Linked DNA regions of Homo sapiens. The protein of the gene in region 4 purifies or fractionates together with the protein of the main gene of each other region. This does not show direct contact. Each region holds a gene or a part of one and is shown on either strand. Other genes may lie near its edges. The genes, in order: RAD51B, CD109, DENND11, DKKL1, XPR1, AMD1 and TGFBR3.

What was found.
Region 1: the proteins of DKKL1 (region 4) and RAD51B purify together in Homo sapiens (affinity purification with mass spectrometry; 2 studies listed by BioGRID and IntAct, with this or other methods). This does not show direct contact.
Region 2: the proteins of DKKL1 (region 4) and CD109 purify together in Homo sapiens (co-immunoprecipitation; 2 studies listed by BioGRID and IntAct, with this or other methods). This does not show direct contact.
Region 3: the proteins of DKKL1 (region 4) and DENND11 purify together in Homo sapiens (co-immunoprecipitation; 3 studies listed by BioGRID and IntAct, with this or other methods). This does not show direct contact.
Region 5: the proteins of DKKL1 (region 4) and XPR1 purify together in Homo sapiens (affinity purification with mass spectrometry; 2 studies listed by BioGRID and IntAct, with this or other methods). This does not show direct contact.
Region 6: the proteins of DKKL1 (region 4) and AMD1 purify together in Homo sapiens (affinity purification with mass spectrometry; 2 studies listed by BioGRID and IntAct, with this or other methods). This does not show direct contact.
Region 7: the proteins of DKKL1 (region 4) and TGFBR3 purify together in Homo sapiens (affinity purification with mass spectrometry; 2 studies listed by BioGRID and IntAct, with this or other methods). This does not show direct contact.

What each region holds. Positions count from the first base shown.
Region 1 is NC_000014.9:67,885,779-67,889,278, reverse strand, and holds part of RAD51B (DNA repair protein RAD51 homolog 2), read right to left. Parts: intron 3,411-3,500; coding exon 3,291-3,410; intron 2,259-3,290; coding exon 2,075-2,258; intron 1-2,074. UniProt on the Homo sapiens protein: Involved in the homologous recombination repair (HRR) pathway of double-stranded DNA breaks arising during DNA replication or induced by DNA-damaging agents. May promote the assembly of presynaptic RAD51 nucleoprotein filaments.
Region 2 is NC_000006.12:73,762,203-73,765,702, forward strand, and holds part of CD109 (CD109 antigen isoform 1 preproprotein), read left to right. Parts: intron 1-181; coding exon 182-278; intron 279-538; coding exon 539-680; intron 681-1,373; coding exon 1,374-1,483; intron 1,484-3,500. UniProt on the Homo sapiens protein: Modulates negatively TGFB1 signaling in keratinocytes.
Region 3 is NC_000007.14:141,685,167-141,688,666, reverse strand, and holds part of DENND11 (DENN domain-containing protein 11), read left to right. Parts: intron 1-2,008; coding exon 2,009-2,108; intron 2,109-3,030; coding exon 3,031-3,189; intron 3,190-3,500.
Region 4 is NC_000019.10:49,362,466-49,366,676, forward strand, and holds the start of DKKL1 (dickkopf-like protein 1 isoform 1 precursor), read left to right. Parts: upstream 1-1,411; 5' UTR 1,412-1,533; coding exon 1,534-1,543; intron 1,544-1,568; exon of another isoform or gene 1,569-1,598; coding exon of another isoform or gene 1,599-1,653; intron 1,654-2,116; coding exon 2,117-2,289; intron 2,290-3,043; coding exon 3,044-3,184; intron 3,185-3,327; coding exon 3,328-3,420; intron 3,421-4,211. UniProt on the Homo sapiens protein: Involved in fertilization by facilitating sperm penetration of the zona pellucida. May promote spermatocyte apoptosis, thereby limiting sperm production. In adults, may reduce testosterone synthesis in Leydig cells.
Region 5 is NC_000001.11:180,887,022-180,890,779, forward strand, and holds the end of XPR1 (solute carrier family 53 member 1), read left to right. Parts: 3' UTR 1-3,258; downstream 3,259-3,758. UniProt on the Homo sapiens protein: Inorganic ion transporter that mediates phosphate ion export across plasma membrane.
Region 6 is NC_000006.12:110,881,285-110,884,784, reverse strand, and holds part of AMD1 (S-adenosylmethionine decarboxylase proenzyme), read right to left. Parts: intron 1-3,500.
Region 7 is NC_000001.11:91,711,652-91,715,151, reverse strand, and holds part of TGFBR3 (transforming growth factor beta receptor type 3 isoform a precursor), read left to right. Parts: intron 1-2,609; coding exon 2,610-2,909; intron 2,910-3,500. UniProt on the Homo sapiens protein: Cell surface receptor that regulates diverse cellular processes including cell proliferation, differentiation, migration, and apoptosis.

The DNA.
Region 1 (3,500 bases), on a different chromosome or scaffold from region 4:
ATTTAGCTAGGAAAATTCCAACATTTTCTAAAGGAAATATTTTTCAAAATCCTTTTAAAACCAATCTTACAATCTTAATTGTCACAAAAAACAGATATCACAGTTATATAAGTACATAGTATAATCTGCATTTATTTCTAAATAGAGAAACAAAGCCAAAGGCATAGAAATGGGATATTCAGTACCTATTTTTTCAGAGGGTTCTATTAAAAACAAAGAAAAGCAGTGCCCCTTTCTCACTTGGGAAAATAAATCACCTTAGGAAAAACTGAAAAGCATTAGCCTACAGTTACTACTTAAAAGCAAACAAACACAACATTTAAAAAGTGAATTTTATTTTGCACGGAATTAAGTCAAGCAACAGTATGAATTAATAATAAAATAAGAATATATAGTCATCCCCCTGTATCCATGGGGGATTGGTTCCAGGACTCCTCTGCAGATACCATAATCCACGGATGCTCAAGTCCCTCATATAAAATGGTGCAGTGTTTGCACATAATCTATGTACATTCTCTGGTATACTTTAAATCAACTTTACATTACTTATAATACCCAATACAATGTACATGCTATGTAAATCTCTGCTTAACTATAGGGAATCATGACAAGAAAAAAGTCTGTACATGTTCAGTACAAAGACAACTATCCTTTTCTTTTCTTTCAAATATATATATATATTTTTAGAGAGAGGGTCTCACTCTGTCTCCCAGGCTGAAGTGCAGTGACATGAACATGGCTCAATGCAACCTCAACCTCCTGCGCCTAAGTGATCCTCCCACCTCAGCCTCTTGAGTAGCTGAGACTGCAGGGGCACACTACCACACCCATTGCTTTTTCAAATATCTCCTATCTTTAGTTGGTTGAATCCATGGATGCAGAACCCACAGATACAGAGGGCCAACTATATACATAACTTTCTATTCAATCAAGTATCTTTATACAGTATTTCAAAGTTCCCTTATTCTCCTTGATCAGGAAAAATATAAATTTGAATTTATCATTTTAACCAACTACAATAAAATGTAAAAGATGAACATCACCCAAGACAAACTTAACAGCACTTGACTTTAATTCAAAATATAAACTAAAAAGCCATTAAAGTATGCAGAACTTTTTGAATGTCATATTTTCTCCCTTGACTTCTTCCTTGGTTTTATAAACCTCAAAGGCTGTGTGATAGTTTATATTATTTATACATATTCTTTATGTTGCAAAGATCCAAGATTTTAATTTTCCAAAAACAAATCTAAAAATTATAAAATCATAACCAAATTTTATCTCAGTTTAAGGAACTATCTTTTCTTGAGATGAAGCATGACTAAAATTGAGAAGCCTGAATGTTGATGAGGCTGTGGAACAACGACTAAAACTCCCTGACACACTGCAGATGGGAGTGTAACTTAGTACACACTTACGTCTTGCAGGTTACACATCACAAGCCCTTGTAATAGCCTGTCATCTTCAGATTTCTGATCACAATGCCCGCTACAAAAAGCCATGCCACAAATAATCTTTCAAGGTTTTCTTACTGACACTTTCATTACTATCATTCCAACATCTCTTAATGGTTGACCTCTGACCATTTGAAGCAAACCAAATCCTATTGTACACAAAACAGCGCTGAACACAATAACACAGTATCTAAACCTAAAATACTTAAAACAAAACTAACAACAACTGCAGTATTTTTTTTAATTATATAGAAATAGATCTAGGCAATTTCATGAAGTTTTACTACTTTATATTTACTGCAGTGTGAGAAATGTGATACAAAGCACACACAAAGAGTAAACAATGAGAAGGAAGAAAAGGAGGGACTATAGGAACTTTTAAAAACATCGTTTAAATCTACTCCAGACTCAAATTATTAAAATAATAAAATAATCTCAGCAGATGAGCTAATTTAAGATGATGGCGATGTTTGCTATAGCAATTAGACTGTACTACCTTTAAAAAGTCATCTGTTTTACATTTTCCTCTAATTTTATTATTTGATACCATAAGTCAGTGAATGTAATATAAAAGAAACAAAAGAAAGGAAAAGAAAAAAGAGAAAAAAAGAAAAACTTACTGGGATTGAAAACTCCTCAGCCAAATACTTCAAGGAGGATGCCTCTCTTGCCAAGAACTTGTTTCTTTCTTTGAGATTGCCTTGAAGTTGTGCATCAAACTCCTTTCTGACCACAGAAGCAACAGAGTCAAGAATCACAAGTTTAATTCCTTTTGAGATAATTTCTTCTTCCAAAGATTCAATCCTATAAAAGAAGAATTTATAAAATAGTCAATAAATTTAAGATAAAATAAATAAATAAAGGTATTGCAAAGGCTAAGCAACTTAAAAACAATAAACTATTCTTTCCTAAGTTACAGTAATGATTTGCAAGAATTCAGTAAACCTAACTTGTAGACATATCATACTTTTCTGGAAACAGAGCAAACTGTTTCTGTGTAGTTTCAGAATTCCTTGATTCTCCTAAGATAATGTTAACGCTCCAATTCTGGGGTAAAACTACTTGTGGTAGCCAGTCTGCAAAATGGCCCACACTTACTCCCTCCTCTTGGTATTTTGCATCCTTGTATAGGTCCCTCCCACAGTGTGCCAGACTTGATCTGTATGACCACAAGCATATGACAAGATCATGGTACCTTATTTCTGAGTGTGGGTTATAAAAGACTACAGCTTCCATCTTGGGTACTCTTTCACTTGCCCAGTCTCTCAGGTCACTTACTCTGAGGAAAGCAACTTGCTATGTTGTGATTTATGGAGAGGCCCAGACGGTAAGGAACAAAGGTCTCTTGCCCACTGCCAGCAAGAAACAGAGGGCTTCCAACAACTATATTAGGGAGCTTGGAAGCAGGTACTCCAGCTCCAGTCAAGCCTTAAGATAACTGCAGCCCTGGCCACCAGCTTGACTATAACCTCTTGAGCGACATTGAGCCAGAAACACCCAGCTAAGCTACTCCCAGACACTTAACCCTCAGAAACTATGTGAAATAATATGTATTTGCTGTTTTAAGCTACTAAACTGTGAGACAATTTGTTAATGAAACAATAGATAAATAATACACCACTTAATTAATTAAATACAGAACATTTTATTCATTTAATTTTTTTTGTTTTTCAAGAAAGACTTCAACCAAAAGGCTATAACAAAGAAGAACACTGAAAAAGTTACTCCACATAATTCTAACCTATAAAGACTTTTTTCACTTAGAAGCTGAAACATAAAAGATAAAACATAAACCTTCAACGCATTACTAAAAAATCAAAATCTAAAGCAGCATACCTTTGTAGAACTTCATCACAGGTGAGTTCCCGATAAAGATGAACTTTACTACTTGTCAAAAGTAACTTTTCTTCAGTGTTAAAATATCTGGGAAAACGGGATTCTGCTATTTCAACCAGTCTGTGGGTGAAAAAAATAGCACAAACGAAAACAGTCAATTCTACTTAAAGCCACATTGCTGAATCTCTAATTAATTTTACTTGAGAAACT
Region 2 (3,500 bases), on a different chromosome or scaffold from region 4:
CACCCGCCTCGGCCTCCCAAAGTGCTGGGATTACAGGCGTGAGCCACCGCTCCCAGCCCAATGTAATTTTTTAAAATGTTAGATTGCTAATTGCTAATGTATGCTATTGAAAGTAGTATTTTTATTGTGTTCTGACAATATCAAGTTGATACATAAAAAGACTATGTTTATAATTATTCAGGTATACATATGGGAAGCCAGTGAAAGGAGACGTAACGCTTACATTTTTACCTTTATCCTTTTGGGGAAAGAAGAAAAATATTACAAAAACATTTAAGGTAACTTTTGCAGACACTTTATAACTTGTGATGGGTAAAATATGTGTATTTTTCTAGAAATAAGATTTAGTACTGAATTAACAAAAAGTTAAGTGTAAGAAAATCAAGAGCTTTCCAGCATTGAACAAATGAGAATTTATGCAATTATAGCGATTAAAATGGTACCAGAGCTATCATATTGTTGTGACTTAGTTTGAGTTTTATTTCTAAAATTTGAATTGCTAAAATGGTAAATAATACTGAACTTTTAAACAAAACAGATAAATGGATCTGCAAACTTCTCTTTTAATGATGAAGAGATGAAAAATGTAATGGATTCTTCAAATGGACTTTCTGAATACCTGGATCTATCTTCCCCTGGACCAGTAGAAATTTTAACCACAGTGACAGAATCAGTTACAGGTTTGTAGACTTTAAAGTGGAGGTAAAACTATTCATGTGACACTGCTTTATCATCTTTCTTATTATAACTGGCACTTTCATTTGGGAGCATCATTGACTTTCTAAAGATGCTATTTAATGTTGAAATTGTTATGACTGTTAGTCTAAGTTGCAGGATGATTTTATAAGGGGGACCTTATTTTCTATGAAAGTCACTACTTCAACCACATGTGATAGCTCTTCTTAATTTTTTTTTCCATTTCTACTCTTTCCCCCTGAAAACTACATGGAAAGGCTTACATTTTCAGCTGGTAACCTTCTTCTTTTTAAAATCACTGAAATCTCAGCTGTTCCTAGACAGTTTTCACTTTTAATAAGAAAATAAAGTTGAGTTTCTTGGACCTTTCTGTTACTATTTCAACAACTTTAGCCAATCCCTGAAAGAGCAAAAGACTATTCTTTCATTGGCCTTAATTTGCTGCTGTTGTACATGTCACTGCGGTAGAATGGCAGCAATGGTGCTTAGAGGGGATCCATAGAGAACATAATAGAACTGTGTGGTGCTTGTAGTGTCAAAGTCAATATGGGAATGAGGCTTATGTGCCCTGATATTTTTAACCCTTTTTGCAATAGGTTAGATGGAGAGATTTGGTGGATAGAAGCTTTGGGTGAAACATTACTTTTGCTTTCTAAATTGTGCAATTTCCAAAAAAGGTATTTCAAGAAATGTAAGCACTAATGTGTTCTTCAAGCAACATGATTACATCATTGAGTTTTTTGATTATACTACTGTCTTGAAGCCATCTCTCAACTTCACAGCCACTGTAAGTTGGTATATTTATTTCCAGTCCATAGCAGTAAGTTCAGCTTAATGAAATAGAATGGGAAATAATATTTTCAATGCTTTTCTAAAAATTTAAGCCAAAAAGTATATAACTTTGTCTCTTTAGACATGTGGGGCATGTAGATTTGTTTCCAAATGACCTTTGTCTATTTTTTCTAAAAAAGTAGTTTTCAACAACAGTAAAAATATTTTTTGAAAATGTATTTTTTTTTACAAGCAATTTAAGTTAGATGTGGATTGCTACACTGAAGCTTTTATTAATTAATTGAAATAATTACATGGTAGTCAAAAATTTCAATTTCAATTTGGTTTTTATAATGATTAATTGTAGTTCTAACAAAGATGTTACATTAAAAAATTATCAACAAATCTCATTTTTTGGAGATAATGTTGAATTAACACATTAATTGTGTGAATGTTGACAATGAGCAAGGCATGGTGTTGGGCAGGGCTATAGAGCCAAGAAGGGCTCAGTCCCTACCCTCAGGTTCACAGTTTTTGTGATGGTGACAGGAAAATATATACTTAACTATAACTCATGGCAGATTAAGATTAGTGTTACAAATTAATTTCTGTAGGGATTTAAAGCAGGGGTTGCCAAACTTTTTCTGCAAAGGGCTAGAGAGTAAATATTTTCAGCTTTGTGGCCATGTGGTCTTTGTCACAGCTACTCAGCCCTGCCATTGTAGTGTGAAAGCAGCCATAGCCAATTTATAAATAAGTGAGAGTGGAATGTGTTCCAGTAAAACTTTGTTTACAAACATACTGGATTGGCCTATCAGCTTGCAGTAGTTGGCTGATCTCTGATTTAAAGAAAGGAGGAGTCAGGCCTGGCGTGGTGGCTCATGCCTGTAATCCCAGCACTTTGGGAGGCCGAGGCAGGCGGATCACCTGAGGTTAGGAGTTCGAGACCAGCCTGACCAACATGGAGAAACCCCATCTCCACTAAAAACACAAAAAATTAGGCGGGCGTGGTGGCACATGCCTGTAATTCCAACTACTCGGGAGGCTGAGGCAGAAGAATCGCTTGAACCCGGGAGGCGGAGGTTGTGGTGAGTGGAGATTGCGCCATTGCACTCCAGCCTGGGCAACAAAAGTGGAACTCCATTTCAAAAAAAAAAAAAAAAACAACTAAAACGACAAAGAAAGAATGGAGGGGTCACTTGTTGAATGGGTCGGTAGACGTTTCAGGTAGTTTCTGATTTCAATGATCTTAATTTAGGCAGTTTGAAAAGGTCAGTTTAAAAAATTGAGGCTGCAAATGGTAATTTCTGAATGAGTAGAGTGAAACCATGGGCGTTCAGAGGGGGAGAGTTGGCTGTGGGATAGGCATGGGGGTTACTATGGGATGCTTTATGGAAGAGGATGGTCTAAACTGTTTTTTAAAAGATTAGTTGTGTTTTAAATGCTTGGGCATGGGAGTGGGAGGTGGGGAGCAAGATAAGAAGTGAGACAAGAAGGAGAGGTCTGGCTGGCAATTTCGGGGTGCACTCAGGTAGTGTTTGAGGGAGACTGCTCAGGCTGTGTGCAGGAGGATGGCTGTAGCCCAGGAGTGAGGGGATGGGCAGCCTTGTGGTGGTAGCTGTGGGAGTGGAGAGGATGGAAGAGAGAAGCATAGGACTTTGGTGTTCATTGGATTTGGGGGGTGGGGAGAGGGAGGGAAAATTCAGAAATGTAAAGTCTTGCAAAATCCTGATGTTAGCGAAAATAGGAAAATGACATGGTTGCTCATTTTAGATATGTGAATTCAAGGTGTCCAGGATATCCAAGTAGAAATTTCCTGCAGGTAACTGGAGGTGTTGGGCATGAACTCCAGAGAAGGGCAAGGATGGGAATTTTGGCTTTAGGGTACAATCACAGAGATGACAAGCTAAGCAATAGGATTGCTGAGACCTTGGAGGAAGGGAGAAGAACAGATGTCCAAAATTCCCACATTTAGGGAGAGGAAAGAGGAACTGAAAAGGACACTGAGAGGATGCAGAAAGAGAGGTAGGAAG
Region 3 (3,500 bases), on a different chromosome or scaffold from region 4:
ATATAGGAAAGCGTGGGGGAACTTGGTGCTTAAAAAACTCGTCTTATCCCCAAGGTCACCCCTCTTTCTTTCTGAGTGCTTTTTCTTATCTTTGACCCTGACAAACATAACATTGTTCGAGGCTTTCTGCTTTATGAACTCTTAATTCCTTTTTCATGCTTTTCACTTTAGTGAATTGACTAAATGATCAGAATCATAATTCCTCTTTTGAAAATAAACTATTTGAAAGTGACTTGGGCTGTTGAGTGTGAGATTCGACAATGCTCTATGATATCTACCATGTCCTGAGACTAGATTGTGTATTCCCTGATGCCCTGAACAATTATCTGAAAGCGTTGTTTGGCTGGGATCATTGATGGTTTTTCTAATGCCTAGCAAATTAGGATTTGGAGTGTTAATAAGAAGTTTGTTCTGAAATGAAATCTCACAAATAGCTTAGTGTTTTGCTTTAAACCCTTTTGAATATGCATGAAAACAACAGGGAGTATTCTATAGTGTTCTCTCAAGACTCTAGATAACACTGCTATTGTGTAGTTCCCTGATTCCCGCAGCCCGAGGCATGCTTGTACTTTTAAAATCCTACTTTGGCCTAGAGCGGTGGCTCACACCTGTAATCCCAACACTTTGGGAGGCCGAGGCAGGTGGATCACCTGAGGTCAGGAGTTGAAGACCAGCCTGGGCAACTTGGTGAAACCCCATCTCTACTAAAAATACAAAAAAAATAGCTGGGCATGGCCGGGTGCGGTGGCTCACGCCTGTAATCCCAGCACTTTGGGAGGCTGAGGTGGGCGGATCACAAGGTCAGGAGATTGAGACCATCCTGGCTAACATGGTGAAACCCCGTCTCCACTAAAAATACAAAAAATTAGCCGGGCCTGGTGGCAGGTGCCTGTAGTCCCAGCTACTGGGGAGGCTGAGGCGGGAGAATGGCATGAACCTGGGAGGCGGAGCTTGCATTGAGCCGAGATCGCGCCACTGCACTCCAGCCTGGGTGACAAGAGCAAGACTCTGTCTCAAAAAAAAAAAAAAAAAAAATTAGCCGAGTGTGCTGGTATGCGCCTGTAATCCCAGCTACGTGGGAGGCTGAGGCAGGAGAATCGCCTTGAACCTGGGAGGTGGAGCTTGCAGTGACCCGAGATTGTGCCACTGCACTCCAGCCTGGGCGACAAAGTGAAACTCAGTCTCGAGAAAAAAAAAAAAAAATCGCACCTTATCCTCTGTCATAACATTGATCCCACTGCACTGTAACTGCTGATCTCCTCTAGCTCTCCTCATTTCTCTCTGGAATCTAATCTCACTGAGGTCAGGGACTTTGTATCTCCAGCATCTAGCTCAGGAGAAACTGAATAATCAATGATGAGTGAATGAGTCCCAAAATTCTGGAAGCAAATATCATTGTCCCTTGAAGAAGGACCTCACTTAGAGAGGAGAGAGAGAGGAGGGGAAACAGAGTTACATTGGTCAGAGAGGTAGGAAAAGCACTAAAATAGTATTCTATCATGAAAATCCAGGAAAAAGAGGAGAAATGTTTGAGGAATTAGCAAATGCTACCTAGAGGTAAACGAGAATGAGAATTTAAAAAATGTTTTGGGATTTTTTCCCAGTCATTAGTGGCTATAGATAGAATCAAGATCTCAAGGGATTAAGGGGAGAACACAAGATAAGGAAATGAGGGTGGAAGGTTAAAAAAACATGCAGAGAAGTGAGGCTACAAAAAGCAGATTTGGAAGTGGTTGAGCAGAATGACAGAAGCAAACGCAGCATCCTCATGAGGGAGGAGAACAGTGTTTGAGGGCAGAAATGGGAGGTTCTTTTAGTGTCCACCTCCACGTCCTCCGGCGTCACCCCTGCCAGTGATGGAGGGGCTGAGCTCTGAGCATCTCGCTGGTCTGTCTGAGGCTGAGTCAGCAGTCGGTTTATTGAAAAGCCATGTGTGCTAAGCCCTGTACTAACCCATTTTCTTTGAATGATGTTGTTTCTTTTAACTTGCATCTTCCTTTTCCTGCAGGAAACATGGTAGAATGGTGCTTACCTCAAGATATTGACCTTGAAGGTGTTGAGTTCAAGTCTATGGCCAGTGGGTCCCATAAAATCCAATCTGATTTCATGTAAGTACTTCTGAACTGGAGTCATCTTCGTACCATTCCCCCCACCTCCACACTTTCCCCAAAGCTGAAGGGCTCTTATTAGGAGGTCTTCGTGTGCTGTGTGTAAATGCCTTGAAAATACATGGATAGTTTTGTGTTTACATCATTTTTCTAGTGAGATGTCTAGCTTTCATCAGATTCTCAATGGGCTTCATGACCTGCAAATCTTAAGAATCCCTGCCTGTAGAGGTTCTCTCACTTTCTCAGAAATTACATGGACCTCACTTGAGGTTTGGTTTTAATGAAAGTGCACAGTTTCAGCCCCGTGTGAGTTAACTGAGGATATCTATGTGTTCAACCTTGAAATTTCAGCTTTAAGTAAGGCCATTTTTTAGTCCTGTGTAGTGGGGCATTCAGAGAGTTTTGCGAGAAGGAACAATGGAAAGAGCTTAAGGGTAATGAAGTGGCTTTAATCTCCTCATGGGGCTTAATTCATGATTGATACAAGTGTGAGAAGAGGAGGAAATAAAATGGCAGCTCAGTGAAAAATATCAGAGCCTCAGGAAGTAAGGGAAGAATCACTGTGGTTTATGCTACGAAAGAGAGTCCAAGTTCCAGAGGAGCCTGAAGAGGAATGTTGGTTCTGCTTCACCCATCCAAGTCATTAGTCGTGGTGCAGGAGAGAAGAGATGTGTCCATGATTGTGGGCAGCTGAGCGGCAGGCTTGCCACGGACTAAGTCCCAGCTCCAGCCAAGTGACCCTTGGCAAGTTATGTAATCTCTTCAAGCTCATCAGTGAGGTCATGTGGCTTGGCCCGCTTGTTTTCTTGAGGCTGAGCTTTGTCATTGACAGCCCCGAACACAGTTCATTTGTTTTGTTTAGGATTGCATCTCAAAATTCCTCTCTGATCTTGAGCCACACTACGTATTTGGTCTCTTCTAGCTATTTCCGAAAGGGGCCCTTCTTCGGCCTGGCCTGCTTTGCCAACATGCCCGTGGAGAGCGAGCTGGAACGTGGCGCGCGGATGAAGTCTGTGGGCATCCTCTCTCCCTCCTACACACTGCTTTACCGCTACATGCACTTCTTGGAGAACCAGGTTCGGTACGTGGCTTCCGTACATGTGCAGGGAGGCAGCAGGATCCACCAGCTGGTGCATATGGCACGAGCCCTCGGAGACAGCATTTGCGTGCCAGAGCAGCAGATGTCTTTCCAAGAACATCCATGGCGATGTTTCACGCCTCGGGTGGTGTCCTTTCGTTTCAGCCAACGTCCTGCATGATGAGTCTTCACTCTATAATGAAAGCTGGGGTATATTCTGCCTTCAGTTTGGATTTAATACTACCATCACTTTTTAAAATTAAGTCATTTTTTGACAGGTACATGATCTTTGTTTATGCAAAGCCGCAATAGTT
Region 4 (4,211 bases):
GAGGGGGGGGCGGGCCCGGCCGGCGGACAGCGGGAAGGGGGATCCGACGGTGACAGTTTGGGGAAGGATTTTTGCTTTGGGAGAGATTAGTCTATCTCGGGGCTGGTAGGAACTCAGGATTTGGGTGCTTGGGAAAGGAGGGGGATTGGGGGTTCGGACTCCAAGTCGGAGGGAAAAGGCTGATAGGAGCCAGAAACCCCTGATCTGAGGGAGGAGAGGCTGGGGGCTGGGACTCCTGGGTCTGGGGGCTGGGACTCCTGGGTCTGGGAGAGGAAGCGGCTGGAGAGAGATATGGGCTCCTAGGTCTGAGAGGGGACGGGGCTAGGCGCCTGGAATCCCGGCTACCCTCGTGTTTGTGTATTGGGGGTGCGGAAGTGATACGAATACAAAGAGTCTTTACTGTTAAGCCCTGAGGTTTTTTTTCTTTTTTTCTGTTTGGTTTTTGGTTTTTTTGTTTTTTGTTTTTTTTGTTTTTTTTTTTTTTTGAGGATTGGGGTCTGGGGATGGGTTTTGACTGATTCCTATGACGACCTGGTTTCCTTGTGACCTCACCACAGTTAAGAGTCGTGGGCAGGACCACCGGGAGTTTATTGGAGGCCCACGTAGGTGCAGATTCCTCATCTACAGGCGCTAGTGGACTGGAGACGGCTGGCGGCTGTCCCGGGACGGGGAAGAGAGCTTTGGTGCCTGAGGGAAGATGGCTTAGGGCCCGGTCCCTTAAGGGTGAAAGGCTGCGTGTTCAAAATTACGGGACTAGAGGGGGCGGGAGTCCGGACCTGAGGTCCTCAGGGAAAAGGAAGTCTGATTCTGGGTTCCTTGGAAGATGAAATATAAGACTGGATTTAGGGTTTCCGGAGACAACGGGACTTTTTAGTGGAGCGGGAGCGGGAAAACCAGAAGGGACACGGAGAAAAGGTTCCGAAACAGATACACAATTAGAGTGAGAGCTAAAAGGGATGCTTGTACTCCGGTGTCTCCAGTAGGAGGAGCCTAGGACTGGAACTTGGGGTGATGAGGGCAAGATCTGGGACGCAGGGGCGTGGTCCAGTGCAGGGGCGTGGCCCAGTGCAGGGGCGTGGCTTTCAGCCAAGGGGCGTGGCCATTGCGATTGGGCGGGACTCCGAAACGAGGGCCGCAATCAGAGAACACCGCCAGGACTTCCAGGACTTGGTCTCCAGGACTGAGGTCAACTGACGTGGGCGTGGTCTGACTGTGTGGGCGTGGCCAGGGAATGAACTCACGGCTCTGGCTTAAGGGGTGTGGTGAACGAAGGATGGGGCGTGGCTGTGTCACCAAGGGCGTGGTCATGGAGTAGAGGCCCGGGCTCCTGGGTGAGGCCGGCAAGTTTGGAGCGTGGTCAGACAATAGGGGCGTGGCTACGGCTCGCGGAGCGCAACCAACGCTCTAGACCAGACCTGGGCTCGAGACCATAACTGTTTGGCTTTAACAGTACGTGGGCGGCCGGAATCCGGGAGTCCGGTGACCCGGGCTGTGGTCTAGCATAAAGGCGGAGCCCAGAAGAAGGGGCGGGGTATGGGAGAAGGTGAGGATTGAGATCTGGTGGTGAACGTGGGCGAAAGTGAGGAAAAGACCATTGGATGAGGCCGGGTGCTGTGGCTTACGCCTGCAATCCCAACACTTTGGGAGGCCCAGGTGGGCGGATCGCTTGAGATCAGGAGTTCGAGACCAGCCTGGGCAATATGTCGAAACCCTGTCTCTACAAAAAATACAAAAATTAGCCGGGCGTGGAGGCGCGCGCCTGTGGTCCCAGCTACTTCGGGGGGCTGAGGTGGGAGAATCACCTGAGCCCGGGGAGGTCGAGGCTGCAGTGAGCCGTGATTGTGCCACTGTACTCCAGCCTGGACTACAGAGTCTCGGTCTCAAAAAAAAAAAAAAAAAAGCATATGAGACAGAACCCAGAAGAGCCAGACCTGGGAGAAGACGGGGCCTGGCAAGGTGGAGGGTGTGGGAGTAGAAGAAAGAAGCAGTGGGGGAAATGAGCGCGGTGTGGGAGTTGCCTGAACTGGGGAGGCGACCTGGGCAAGGTGCTGGAGAGGGGCGTCTTGGGTGGGGGCGTGGCCACTGTGCGGGGCTCTGACCCCGACCCTTGCCACAGCCTCCCCACCTGCCCCCGCAAGGCGGCATCTGCTGGTCCTGCTGCTGCTCCTCTCTACCCTGGTGATCCCCTCCGCTGCAGCTCCTATCCATGATGCTGACGCCCAAGAGAGCTCCTTGGGTCTCACAGGCCTCCAGAGCCTACTCCAAGGCTTCAGCCGACTTTTCCTGAAAGTAAGCGATGGCGGGGGGATGGGGGAAGAAGTACTGAGAAGAGGTTCAGGGACACAGAGTGGGAGATGGTTCAGGGCCAGGCAGGGGGACAGACAGGATGAGAGGGCAACAGGGAGACCAAGAGATAGGAAGAGGGAAGGGACTGGGCCCAGGCTATAATCACAGCACTTTGGGAGGCTGAGGCAGAAGGATCATTGGAGCCCAGTACTTGGAGACCAGCCTGGGTAACATAGTGAGACCCTCATCTGTACAAAAAAATATAAAAAATAGTTGCAGGTACATGCGCCTATAATCCCAGCTGCTTGGGAGGCTGAGGCAGAAGGATCCCTTGAGCCCAGGAGGTCGAGGCTGCAGTAAGCCATGATAGCACCACTGCACTCCAGCCTGGATGACAGAACAAGGAGACCCTGTCTCTAAACAAATAAATATATACGTGCATAAATAAGAGAGGAAAGGTAACAGGCAAAGAGAGAGGAGATGGGACAGAGACAAGAGACTGGGGAAAGAGACAGGAGGAGAGGGGGATGGGGACAGAAGAGGAACAGGGATAGTAAGGCAATGGGACTGAGAATAGAGAGAGAATTCATGGGGGATGGAGGCCGGAGGTTAGGCCCTAAGTATCAGAGGGCAGAAAGTAAAGGGGATGGGAGGGACTTGGGGCAAGGCCTCGGGAGCATCCTAGCAGGGCTGCAGAAGGGGCTGTACTGAGGAGATGTGAGGTCCAGCAGCTCACCAGTCCCTCCTCCGGCCCCAGGGTAACCTGCTTCGGGGCATAGACAGCTTATTCTCTGCCCCCATGGACTTCCGGGGCCTCCCTGGGAACTACCACAAAGAGGAGAACCAGGAGCACCAGCTGGGGAACAACACCCTCTCCAGCCACCTCCAGATCGACAAGGTGCCTATGCAGGGAAGCCCTTCCTGAAGTCCCCTTGGGATCCCTCCATCCCGCCATCCCTCGTGCTGCAGTATCTGTTGGGAGGGAAGGAGGGCGGAGGAGGAAAGCAGGTTTGCTCTCACTCTCTCATCGGATCCTCACAGATGACCGACAACAAGACAGGAGAGGTGCTGATCTCCGAGAATGTGGTGGCATCCATTCAACCAGCGGAGGGGAGCTTCGAGGGTGATTTGAAGGTTAGGACGTGCCCCGCCGTCAAAGTGTCCAGGCCCAAACATTTTCTTTTTTTCTTTTTTAAAGAAGAGTCTCACTCTGTCACCCAGGCTGGAGTGCAGTGGCACGATCTTGGCTCACTGCAACCTCCGCCTCCGAAGTTCAGGCAATTCTCCTGCCTCAAGCTCCTTGGTAGCTGGGATTACAGGCACCTGCCACCACGCCCGGCTAATTTTTTGTATTTTTTTAGTAGAGACAGGGTTTCTCCATGTTGGTCAGGCTGGTCTTGAACTCCTGACCTCAAGTGATCTGCCCATCTTGGCCTTCCAAAGTGCTGGGATTACAGGCATGAGCCACCATGCCTGGTGAGGCCCTAACATTTTCTGTAGTTTAGGAGGACAAGAAGAGGAACTGACCCTCTTACTCCTCTGTGTGGAACTTCCTCCTTCTGAGCCTCAGTTTTGCCATCTCTCAAGTGGGGCAATCCAACTGTCAGAAATGAGATTTTTGACCTCAGAATACATCTGCAAGGGTTTAGTAGACCCTAGAGGGTTTTGTATCAAAGTGGTTTTCTTTTTTTTTTTTAACTACATAATAGTCAATCAAAGTGTTTCTATGAGCACCAAAATGTTTTATAAACCAAGAAGGGTTTTTAATTCTAAGTGCTTGGAAAGCTTCACCCTCATAAACCCCAAATTGTGTTTTTGTCTCAAAGTAAGTGCTCTGCAAACTTCAGAGTATTTTTCAATCTATCCCAAAGTGGTTGGTAAACCTCTCCATTATAAACTCCAAAATGTTTTTGTTGTTATTGTGG
Region 5 (3,758 bases), on a different chromosome or scaffold from region 4:
ATTAGCTGGGCGTGGTGGCGCATGCCTGTAATCCCAGCTACTCAGGAGACTGAGGCAGGAGAATTGCTTAAACCTGGGAAGCAGAGGTTGCAGTGAGACTAGATCATGCCACTGCACTCCACTGCCACTGCCTGGGCAACAGAGCAAGACTCCATCTCAAAAACAAACAAAAAAAATCACAGACTCATTTTAAAGGAGCAGCAACCTAACCAAATACAAACTTCATTTGATTTTAGGTTTAGAAATTCTAGTTTTATTTTGGAGAATCACTCAGTTTTTAATATCAATTAAAATAGTCCTCAAAGGAATGAAGAGGAAGTCTAAATAAATGAATAAAACTCATTTTTCATTTTATGGTAGTATAGAAAGCATTGATGTGTGTAGAGAAATTAAAAGACAAGAGTGGTTTACTGTCTATGCACAAATGAGTGCCTATATTTAAGGCTGCCTATACCATTACAGTGGCGTAATTGGTGATTTCATAGCATACAGAGAAACAATGAAATCAAAGATTAAATCATTAGGTTATGATGGTCATTTGTAAGATTGGAAAGTAGTCAAAAACCCATGTGCAACTTTTTTTCAGCACTCTACCATTAGGCTCCTTAGGCAAGCTGCTTAACTTCCGTCAGAAGCAAAGGTGTGGGAGAACACCATTCACCTCAGTAGTAACTTATAAAAACCGTTTAAAGAAGGAAAATGGGCCCCAGCCCCTAGGATCCCTGACTTCCTGATATTCTAAACATGAGAGTTCTGTGACTTTAACTGAGCTCTTTACCAGAAGTAACGTGTTGATGTATATTATCTTTCCACCATGCTTTGACCAAAGTACATTCACAGTAACTAGAGAAAGCAGATCATCCATTTCTGGATAGGTGAACTACGGCAAGGTAAGAACAGAAAAAAGTAAAGTAGTATTGAGTCATGCAGGTATCAGATTAACAGACATTCATTGAAGATAAGTGAAATAACTTTGGAGATAGCAGAGAAGAGCAAGAAGATGTTGGACGTTGGCAGTAAGCCGCAGCAAGGCAGTTAGGAAAGTACGTGAGCCTGATGACGCGAAGGTGATGCCTCCATCTGTCCGCTTAGTGGTTATTAAATTGCTGGGAAAGACCTGCCTTTATTTTCCTATCATCTTTTCCCCATTACTTTGCATTATTCAGGAAATAATTATTTATTCCCAAATGCAGTTTTCTAAGCAGTGACCACAAAAATTTCTTATTCTAAGGAAAATAATTAAGAAAATAACCCTATCTGTGGCATTGTTTTAAAATGTGGGATACAAATCTGGTAAGCAGATTTCAGGTCATTATTGTTTTCTTTTAATGGTTTACATGAAATTTTCCTCTCAAAAAACAAGTACCTCTTACTGTATAACATTTGAGTTTTTAAAATTGAGATAGCTTCTGAGAGAAAAAAAGAAAGTTGAATTTGTAGCTCTCTCAACTACAAAATCACCACACTTTTCTCAAATCTAATAGGAATTCAGTGTCATTACAGATACGGTCTCTAGTGACCAGGTGAAGACAATTGAAGCTTTGGTAGAACTTCTGCAAAAGTTAGGTAAAGAAGAATAAATCCAATTTATCAGCTTTGTTCATATTCTTTTTCTGAGTGATCTAAATTTTTCTTGCTTGTGATCATTAGCTAAGACAAGGAGTGTTAAAGGTTTTCTAAATGCAAACACATACGTTTCTGCATTTCAGAAGTCAGTCTTGATAGTAAATCCTACAAACTCTCAACTTTCTGCATTGTATTTTAAGTCTATACAATGTTAGAGCACATGGTAATGTGGGACAGAGTTGATTATATGATAGCATGAGAAATTTGCACTGGTTGGTGTTACAAACCAATGATCTAACCAGCATACTCTCCAAATATGAAAAAGTAAAAACATCTCATTAGGTTTGGAAGAGCCTAAGGTAGTCCATACAGGAAGTTTGCCTGAGAACAGAGAGGAGCCTGTTGATTGGCATGGCTCATGATGCCTTTCTTGTATGAATTATCAAAACTGATACTGAGTTGCCCCTAGAAAACAGCCTTCCAGAATATGTTTGCTTATTTATGGTGGAAGAGGAAGTGAGAACAAGATGAGAGTTTCCCTTAAAGTGAGGAGAATCATTATACAACTTTGCAACTGAAGTATGTTTCCTTGTAGCAAACCTTTGGTTTATTTTATCGTCAAATCAAAGCCACCCTCAGTTTTTTGTATGGTGCCATCAACCTAAGGAGGACAATCAAATAACCTATTGTTTGCCTTGGATTCAGTATATCTACTAAGTACACAGTCTCGTATACCTTCAAACCAGTTACTTGACTAAACTTCCACCATATTACCTTAGTTCTTCCTATGCCCTTTCCTCTGTGCCACCACAAATCAGAGGGAAAGACTGCAGTACTTCTAGAAAGTTGTGGACTTCTAAGAAAGAGCCAGGCTTCCATCTCACTATCCCTTGATCATTATCTCTGAAGTCCCTACCTGCACTTCCCTGATTGCCCTGTAGCAACACCAGCATGGTGGGAATTGGAGGGAAAGATTGTGGAAAATCCCTAAAGGGTCATTGTTCATGACGTTATTTTGAATTGTAAAATTGTGAGCCACTCACATTTCAATTACAAAAAGAACAGAACTCTTAATCACGTTGTGAAGATTAATTTCTTGCCATTTTCTGGATTAGCACAGAAGCTTGTATCAATGAAGAGTATTTAGGAGGGGAATAGGGGGAAAATTGTATTTTTCTGTTCAAACTCTCTCCTTCTATTTGTGTTTCCTTCACCCCTCTCCCTCCACCACACTGTGTTGGTCAAATGATACTATTCTATGAAACCCTGAGCTATAGTTGTCAAAAGTAACTATGGATTGTGATTAGTCCTCTGTGGGTGCTTCCTTCCCTCTTTTTTCTCCCTCACTCTCTTTCTCAGTCTCCACTCTGGTAAATGGAAAAGGTGATGTCGAAGAATTGATGCTTGCTTGGACTCATGTTGTATCTGTGACTATGCTATTAGCTGTCTCCTTTTTCCTTCCTATATGGGTAGAATTCTTATGACTTATGAAGTTCCCTTCTTGATAAGTAGGTTAAATGCACAATGTGGTACTGTTTTATAGTTTCTAGATGGTTGTATAAAGCAAAAAGTTAATGTGGTTATGTGTTTTTAAAGAAAATAAGTGATTGGTCACTAAACTCTGTCCTTTTTTCATTATTACAATTTCTCTCTGTTTTCCAACAGTTTGCTGACTCCTTTGTCACTGGTGAATGGTTTGTGTGACTGTTTTTCTCTCTTGGTTTCTTGAATTCCTGAACATAGTTCCCCTTAGGACTAATTTTCATATGGGGTTAGGGCAAACAGACTACAGTGGTGAAATTTTTAAACTATCCTACTAAGTTAAAAGAAGTTTAAATGGCTTTTATCTTCAGGTAATATGTGAGGTGTGACTCTAAAGCAATGGGATTGTTGTAACAAATCTTTCTTTTACTCGCACAAAGAATCTCAAATATTACAAATATGAGGTGAAATGATGTGTCCAATTACATTTTGGAGAGGTGGACACTGCTATCACTGCATACCCATGCCCTGTGAGGGAACATAGGACTTTTCTGCAGAATTCCTGGACTAATTATTATTCCTTATATATATCTAGGAAAGATTACAAAATTAACTGACCCTAAGATGAATATACCCACAATGCAAAGGGAAAAATAATTTATTGACTAAAGCATCAAAGCCTTTCATCTTACTTTGGTGCCACAAACTCT
Region 6 (3,500 bases), on a different chromosome or scaffold from region 4:
CGTTCCATGGCTGAACTAAACAGTGTAACAGTCTTTTCCTTTCTTATTTTTGTTTTCTCTTTTTTTAAAGGCTGTTGTGGCCAGGCACTGTGGTTCAGAGGCCAAGAAGGAAGGATCACGAGACCAGAAGTTCAAGACCAGCCTGGGCAACATAGCAATAGCCAGTCTCTTAAAAAGAAAAAAGGCAGCTGGGAGTGGTGGTGCAGGTCTGTAGTCCCAGCTACTCGGTAGGCTGATGTGGGAAGTTTGCTTGAGCCCAGGAGATGGAGGGTGCAGTGAACCATGATCACACCGCTACACTCCAGCCAGGGTAACAGAGCAAGACCCTCTCTTAAAACAAAGTATTCACCCTTACAACTTGTAGCACAGATACTTTAAAGTCTTGGTCCATGTCACCTTGAGGTTGGTGTCTGCTGTCTTTTCCTTTGAGATGTTAAGATTTTCCTGGTTTTGAGTATGTTGACTAATTTAGGATGGCATCCTGGATATTTTGACATGTTACATCATTCTAGGTCTTGATTTTTAAAAACTTTCAGCAGACAATCTGGTTTGGTTTAGGCTTCAAGTTTTTACTCAATGTTTCTAGGTTGTGTTATGGTTCCAGTGTCAGGTTTGTTATGAACTCCTTTGCTATGTTATTTGCATCTGCCCCACTTATTTGCCACCCAATGGCCAGGCTGGCCCTGGAGAGGCAGTCTATTGTGTATTCTAGTTTTCAAAGCCTCTGATGTGCTGTTTAGGGTCAGATCCATGCAAAATGGCTAAGGAGTGTTCATATAAAACTTTATAGGTTTACTTTCTTCAACCTTCCATAATCTCTCTGACAATGCCTGACTCACATAGGGGATAGGGGAAGGACTCTTCTTCATCCACTACCTATAAAAATAGGGCTTTGGCCGGGCGCAGTGGCTCACGCCTGTAATCCCAGCACTCTGGGAGGCAGGAGGATCACAAGGTCAGGAGATCAAGACCATCCTGGCTAACAAGGTGAAACCCCGTCTCTACTAAAAATAAAAAAAAAAAAAATTAGCTGGGCATGGTGGCGGGCACCTGTAGTCCCAGCTACTTGGGTGGCTGCGGCGGGAGAATGGCATGAACCCGGAAGGCGGAGCTTGCAGTGAGCCGAGATCGTGTCACTGCACTCCAGCCCTGGCTACAGAGCAAGACTCTGTCTCAAAAACAAACAACAAACAAAAAATGATTCCCTTCTCTCGTTGTTTTAGACATCTGCCTAACTGCCACAGCTGCTAAAGGCCTACAAGAGGATTGGGGCAGAATAGAACAAAACAAAAGCAAAAAAGAGATTTCTTCCACTCTGATTCAAAGGGGCCTCTCATTCTTTCTTTGCAGAGGAGAACTAGAGAGCCTTTCTTGGAACTATTTTTGCCTGCCCCTACTTTTCAGTTCTGGGTTTCTGGCAAGCCCAGGAGAAATCAGCGAGGAGATACCACAGGGGAAAAAAAACAGGAAATTCACTGCTGGTTCAGTGGAATTTAAAGTTCTGGCTTTCTTCTCCATTTCACCTGCTAAAATTTACTTCTCAGAGTCCTTGGATAGCTGCTCAACAATGCATTCTGTCCAGGGTTTATTAATTGCATTTTAATAAGAGAAGACAGTGTAGCATGCTTCTTCTGTAATGGCAGAGAAATAACCTTTTGTTTTCTGAGCCAGTCTCACTGTCACCCAGGCTGGAGAACAATGGCACAATCACAGCTCACTGCAGCCTTGGCCTCCCATGCTCAAAGAGATCCTCCCACCTCAGCCTCCCAAGTAGCTGGGACCACAGGGCATGTATCACTACACCTTACTAATATATTTTTAATTGTTTTGTAGAGATGAGGTCTCCCTATGTTGCCCAGGTTGGTCTCAAACTCCTGGGCTAATGAGATCCTCCCATCTCAGCTTCCCAAAGTGCTAGGATTATAGGCACGTGCCAACCCATTGGCTTCAAAATGCTCTTATACTCACTCATCATCAGTTAATAAAATTCTCCATTCAAACCTTTCCTCAACTAATAGTAATGCTCCGGTAATCAGAATTTTTCAATCATAGTATCAAAAGAAAGCAATTACTTTAAGCAACCTAGGACAAACAGTTAAACTGTCTATCAACCTAGTGATGATAAAGGCATTTACCAGAGCTACTAAGCTCAAGAAAAATAAATCAGAGGGCAAAATAGACGAAAGAAAAAAGTAGTCAATACAATGCTATACATGTACATAAAAGAGGTGAAAAACTCTGCAACAGCTGAAAATTTCAGCACAAATTATTTCTATCACATTTCTGTGGGAAAAAATGGCCTGCTTTTGTAAATAAAGCTCTACTGGAACCTAGCCACACCCATTCATTTATACATTGACTATGGTTATTTTCTCCCTATAAGGGCAGAGCTGAGTAATTGCAACAGACTGTCTGCCTTGCAAAATTTAAAATTTACTCCCTAGTCCTTTACAGAAAGTTTGCTGACTCTTGTTTTGGAGGAAAGGTTTTCAGTGGTCTGCTTTCTGATCAAATTAATGATGGAAAAGACAAAGTGCTTTATACAGTCGACAGAGCCATTTTTAAAATTAGGTTGCAGTGAGCCAAGATCGTGCCACTGCACACCAGCCTGGGCGACAGAGTGAGACTGTGTGTCAAAAATAGAAAAGATAGTATTAAGCTAGAATGTTTTATCAGGCTCAGTAGTGATAGTGGTCTTGTCTCTGCTTCACTCCCAAGTACACTACAAACTGAGACTTTGAAGCACTAGTCTATTATAAACTATTTATAAAACTGATCTATTTGGCAATCCTTGCTATTTAAAGAGTCAATAAATCAAATTGATGGATATAAAGCAGAATCAAGAGAAGCAAGATAGCAAGATGATTTTGGGATTTGTTCACATTACAGCTCACGTAATACTGATCTAGTCATTAGAAATTATTATAAAGCTATTCAAGCACACAATTTTTTTTTTTTTTGAGATGCAGTCTTGTTCTGTCACCTAGGCTGGAGTGCAGTGGTATGCTATCAGCTCACTGCAAACTCCGCCTCCCAGGTTCAAGCAAGTCTCCTGCCCCAGCCTCCCGAGTAGTTGGGACTGATTACAGGCATCTGCCACCATGTCAGGCTAATTTTTTTTTTGTATTTTTAGTAGAGAAGGTGTTTCACCATGCTGGCCAGGCTGGTCTCGAACTCCTGACCTCAAGCAATCCACCCGCCTCGGCCTCCCAAAGTGCTGGGATTTGGGATTACAGGCATGCACCACCATGCCTGGCCCGAAGCACACAATTCTTAGGTGGTTATAAAACACAAAGAAATATGTAGATTGAGTATTTCCTGATTTGAATTCCTTTTTCTCATCTTAAATGCCACCTCTCTGATCTAACTCAGTGGTTCTCAACTTGTAGTAATTTTGCCACCCAGAAGACATGTGGCAACATTTGGAGACATTTTTTATCACAACTGGGGTGGTGGTGGTGTTGCCAGCATGCAGTGGATAGAGGCCAGGGACACTGCTA
Region 7 (3,500 bases), on a different chromosome or scaffold from region 4:
ATATCATCTGTTGGTCTTATGGGAAGGTCCTCATCTAATGAGCTGGTTTTGGTGCTCAGCTGCAAGCTCAGCTTCATAGTGGGAGGGGTGAGAAGCTTAAAGGGTCAAAGTGGGGTACTTCCATATGTTAAAAGTGACTTTGGTGCACGTGTTTCTGTTTTGGAAAGACACATAACTCTCACATTCGCACTGACTCTGGGACAGAGCCCGCTGGCGCTAGATGTTGTTTTCCTTGATCATATGGATTCTGCCCCTCCCCCATTCTGAGAGTTCTCTTTCTTTGAGCACACCTTCTTTCTCCATTGGGGAAAATATACTGCCTTCTACATGCTTTTCCTAAGCCAAGATGGCTGTTTTTCTCTTGCTTTTCTGGCTGTACAGTTCACATGGGCAGTTGGTCAACAGCACCCTATTGCGCTGTGGATTTCAGGGGTGCTGCATAATTGCAGATTGTTCTTTTCCAAATCTATGCCTGGCTTTGCTGATTTATGCTAATCAGTGGTCAATCTTCCTCCTGTACCTTACCCTGGATATTTTGGGTTTTTTCCCCCATCCTTCAAATGCTGGCTTACTTGAAGTGTGTTATTGGTAGTTTTTTTTTTCCATTCTTGTTTTCCCATTTATACCTTTTCATATATCACCTATATTTCTCATAGTTTATCCTCTATTCCCTCTACACCATACAGTCCCTTTCATAATCCAAGTTAACAGTGTTGCCACCTGTTCATTGGTCATCTCCAGGTGACTGTTGGTCACATAATGGCAGTTTTCTTTTGGTTCATTTGTCTTGGGGAATTTACAAACCCAGTTGTTAATAACCCAAAATTTTAAATCTAGAATACTACTATTACTAATAGGTAGCATTTATTGACACTCTGGGAACTGTGTTGTTTGCATGTAACTTTTACTTTGCTAGTTTTCACAATTATGATATCTTGTGGGTATTCGTGTTCTCATTCTGTAGGTGAGTAAACTGAGTCTCGGTGCCCAGCACGTGAGCAGGAGAGCATGTAATTTTTATGAGCTCGTCTCACTACAAAGCCCGTAGTCCTTCTCCTACTCACTTCTGGTCTAAAAGTAAAATCCTTTTTAGTAAAAGATTTGCTGATAATTTATATATATAAACTATATATACATAAAATATATTAAAAAATAATATATATTTTTTCCCTCTGCTACAAAGGTATCCCTTTTTGGGATACCTTAGACATTCTGCCGCTACATACTTTCTTTTGAGATTAGAGAAGAGATTTGCAGTCCCTCTGTTACACATTTTGGCATGTGGTTTCTGAGTTCATGTTAAACGGCAGTTTTTAGTAATAGCACATATGTAATTTGCCACCTTTCCAAGATAGAATATCTTGTTTTTCAGAAGTATTGCAAAAATACTGAAGTGTTAGTATTTACAGAATGTCACCACAGTGACATTATCAGAATCCTCTTCATTAGCATTTTCACTGTTGAGTGTCCTGCAGTTAACCACCACGTAGGAATCTTTCACAACAGTGCTGCGGATTCAAAGCCCCATGTGATGTCAGGGGTTTCCCCTGGGTATCTCAGCGTGGAAAGTCTGTTTCTATCTCCATGTCTTTTGAAATGATTCTGCGGCTGTTGGTCTATGGGTAAGGACTAGCTGTTTCTACAAGTGTTTAAGTTTATTTTGATCCTAAATTTAGTCAAAGAATGAGGCATAGCAGGGAGGGGCAGTTCATGCAGTGATCCACGTGTCACCAAATGGAGAATCTCCTCTGGTCTGGGGATTTTAGCTAAGTTCAGGATAGTTGAGGTTTGAATTCTGTTTACACTTGGCTAAACATTACTTCCTGTTTCTAAGGAAAAGAACCTTAACAAAATTTGGACGTAGCCCATACAAGTGTTTTCAAAGGGGGAAGTATAAATGAGTCGGAAACGTTTCCAGATTAGATTTCCCCTAAACTACCCCTGGGCTTATGGAGCGAAGGGGGAGTACTTGGCAAGGCTGATTTGGATCTGTGAGCAGCTGGGACACTTTACCAGGCCCATGATGGCCTCCAGGTTGCACCGTCACTGACACCCAGCGCCGGAGCCAGCTCTGCCTTCTCGCCGATGAAGCAGGACTCTCATCAGGCTTACTCTGACTTTTTGCAATTTAGAAGCTCAGTCTTCCTGCCTAGGTTAAATAGATTTTGCCGCTGAACTCTATTTTTTGGTCAGTCTTTAAAAAGAGCTTAGCTTATAAGTGTTGTACTATTAAAACATTAGGGACTTTGCCTACTGGTGTTTTATTTACTTCGGAAAATCCACTTTAAATGCAAAATATGTTTTTATTTTTAGCTCTCAGAGGACTCATTGGGAGGTGGAAGAGACTTACTCATCTTGTATTTGAATCTAATGGACTAATATTTGAAAGAAATAATTCACTGTCATCATCTATATCAAATTGAAGTGGAAAATATCTTTTTCTTTCAATGTGTGTGTGTTACTTTTGTAATTAGAAAGAAGGCTATAACTATGTTATGAAGATAAAGCAGCGTGTCATCTGAAGGGCTGTCTTGGCATATGGTCCTTGTGCCTAAAGTGAAAGTGAGATGCTAACTCATTTCCTAATTCATCTTTCTGTTCTTTCATAGGTATCTGTTACTAAGGCTGAACAAGAACTGGGATTTGCCATCCAAACGTGCTTTATCTCTCCATATTCGAACCCTGATAGGATGTCTCATTACACCATTATTGAGAATATTTGTCCTAAAGATGAATCTGTGAAATTCTACAGTCCCAAGAGAGTGCACTTTCCTATCCCGCAAGCTGACATGGATAAGAAGCGATTCAGCTTTGTCTTCAAGCCTGTCTTCAACACCTCACTGCTCTTTCTACAGTGTGAGCTGACGCTGTGTACGAAGATGGAGAAGCACCCCCAGAAGTTGCCTAAGGTTTGTGGGCCTTCATCCATTCGGATGGTTATTTTGGCATTTTTAGGTGAGGCAGAAAAGTTTAATCCCAAGGTCTTGCAGGTTGAGGTTTTTTGTTTTGGAACTGCCCAACTGAAATATTAAAGTCACTATTAGCAGGGAACTGTGAGTTTTATGGAGTCTTAGATAATAAATCCTGACAGCATGAGTTTCTTTTTTCCATGCGTGCTACTTAGTAGTACCTTACGAGTGATAAATCAAGACGCTTTTCCATGGAGGGAGATTTCTGGCTTTATCTTTGCTTTTCAGATAGTTTGCAGGCCAAAAACACAGCAAGCCGAAAGGACAAGTTCATTGTGAGAATTAATTTTTCCAGGTCCTGCTGGGACTGGCATTGTCATTGTTTTTTAACCTTTTCTGTGTGAAATATAAGGTTGACTTGTCTCAGGGAGACTTCTAGGGGAAACTAACAAATATTTTAGCTTTTCTCAGTTTCATATCAGTTCATCATATTTGCCTCCTGTCACTCTCCAGATTGAATGTTCTATTGCCATAACAAAAAGCAGAACCATTTGACCTTGGTGGAATGCATTTGATAGGGGAGATCTGCAA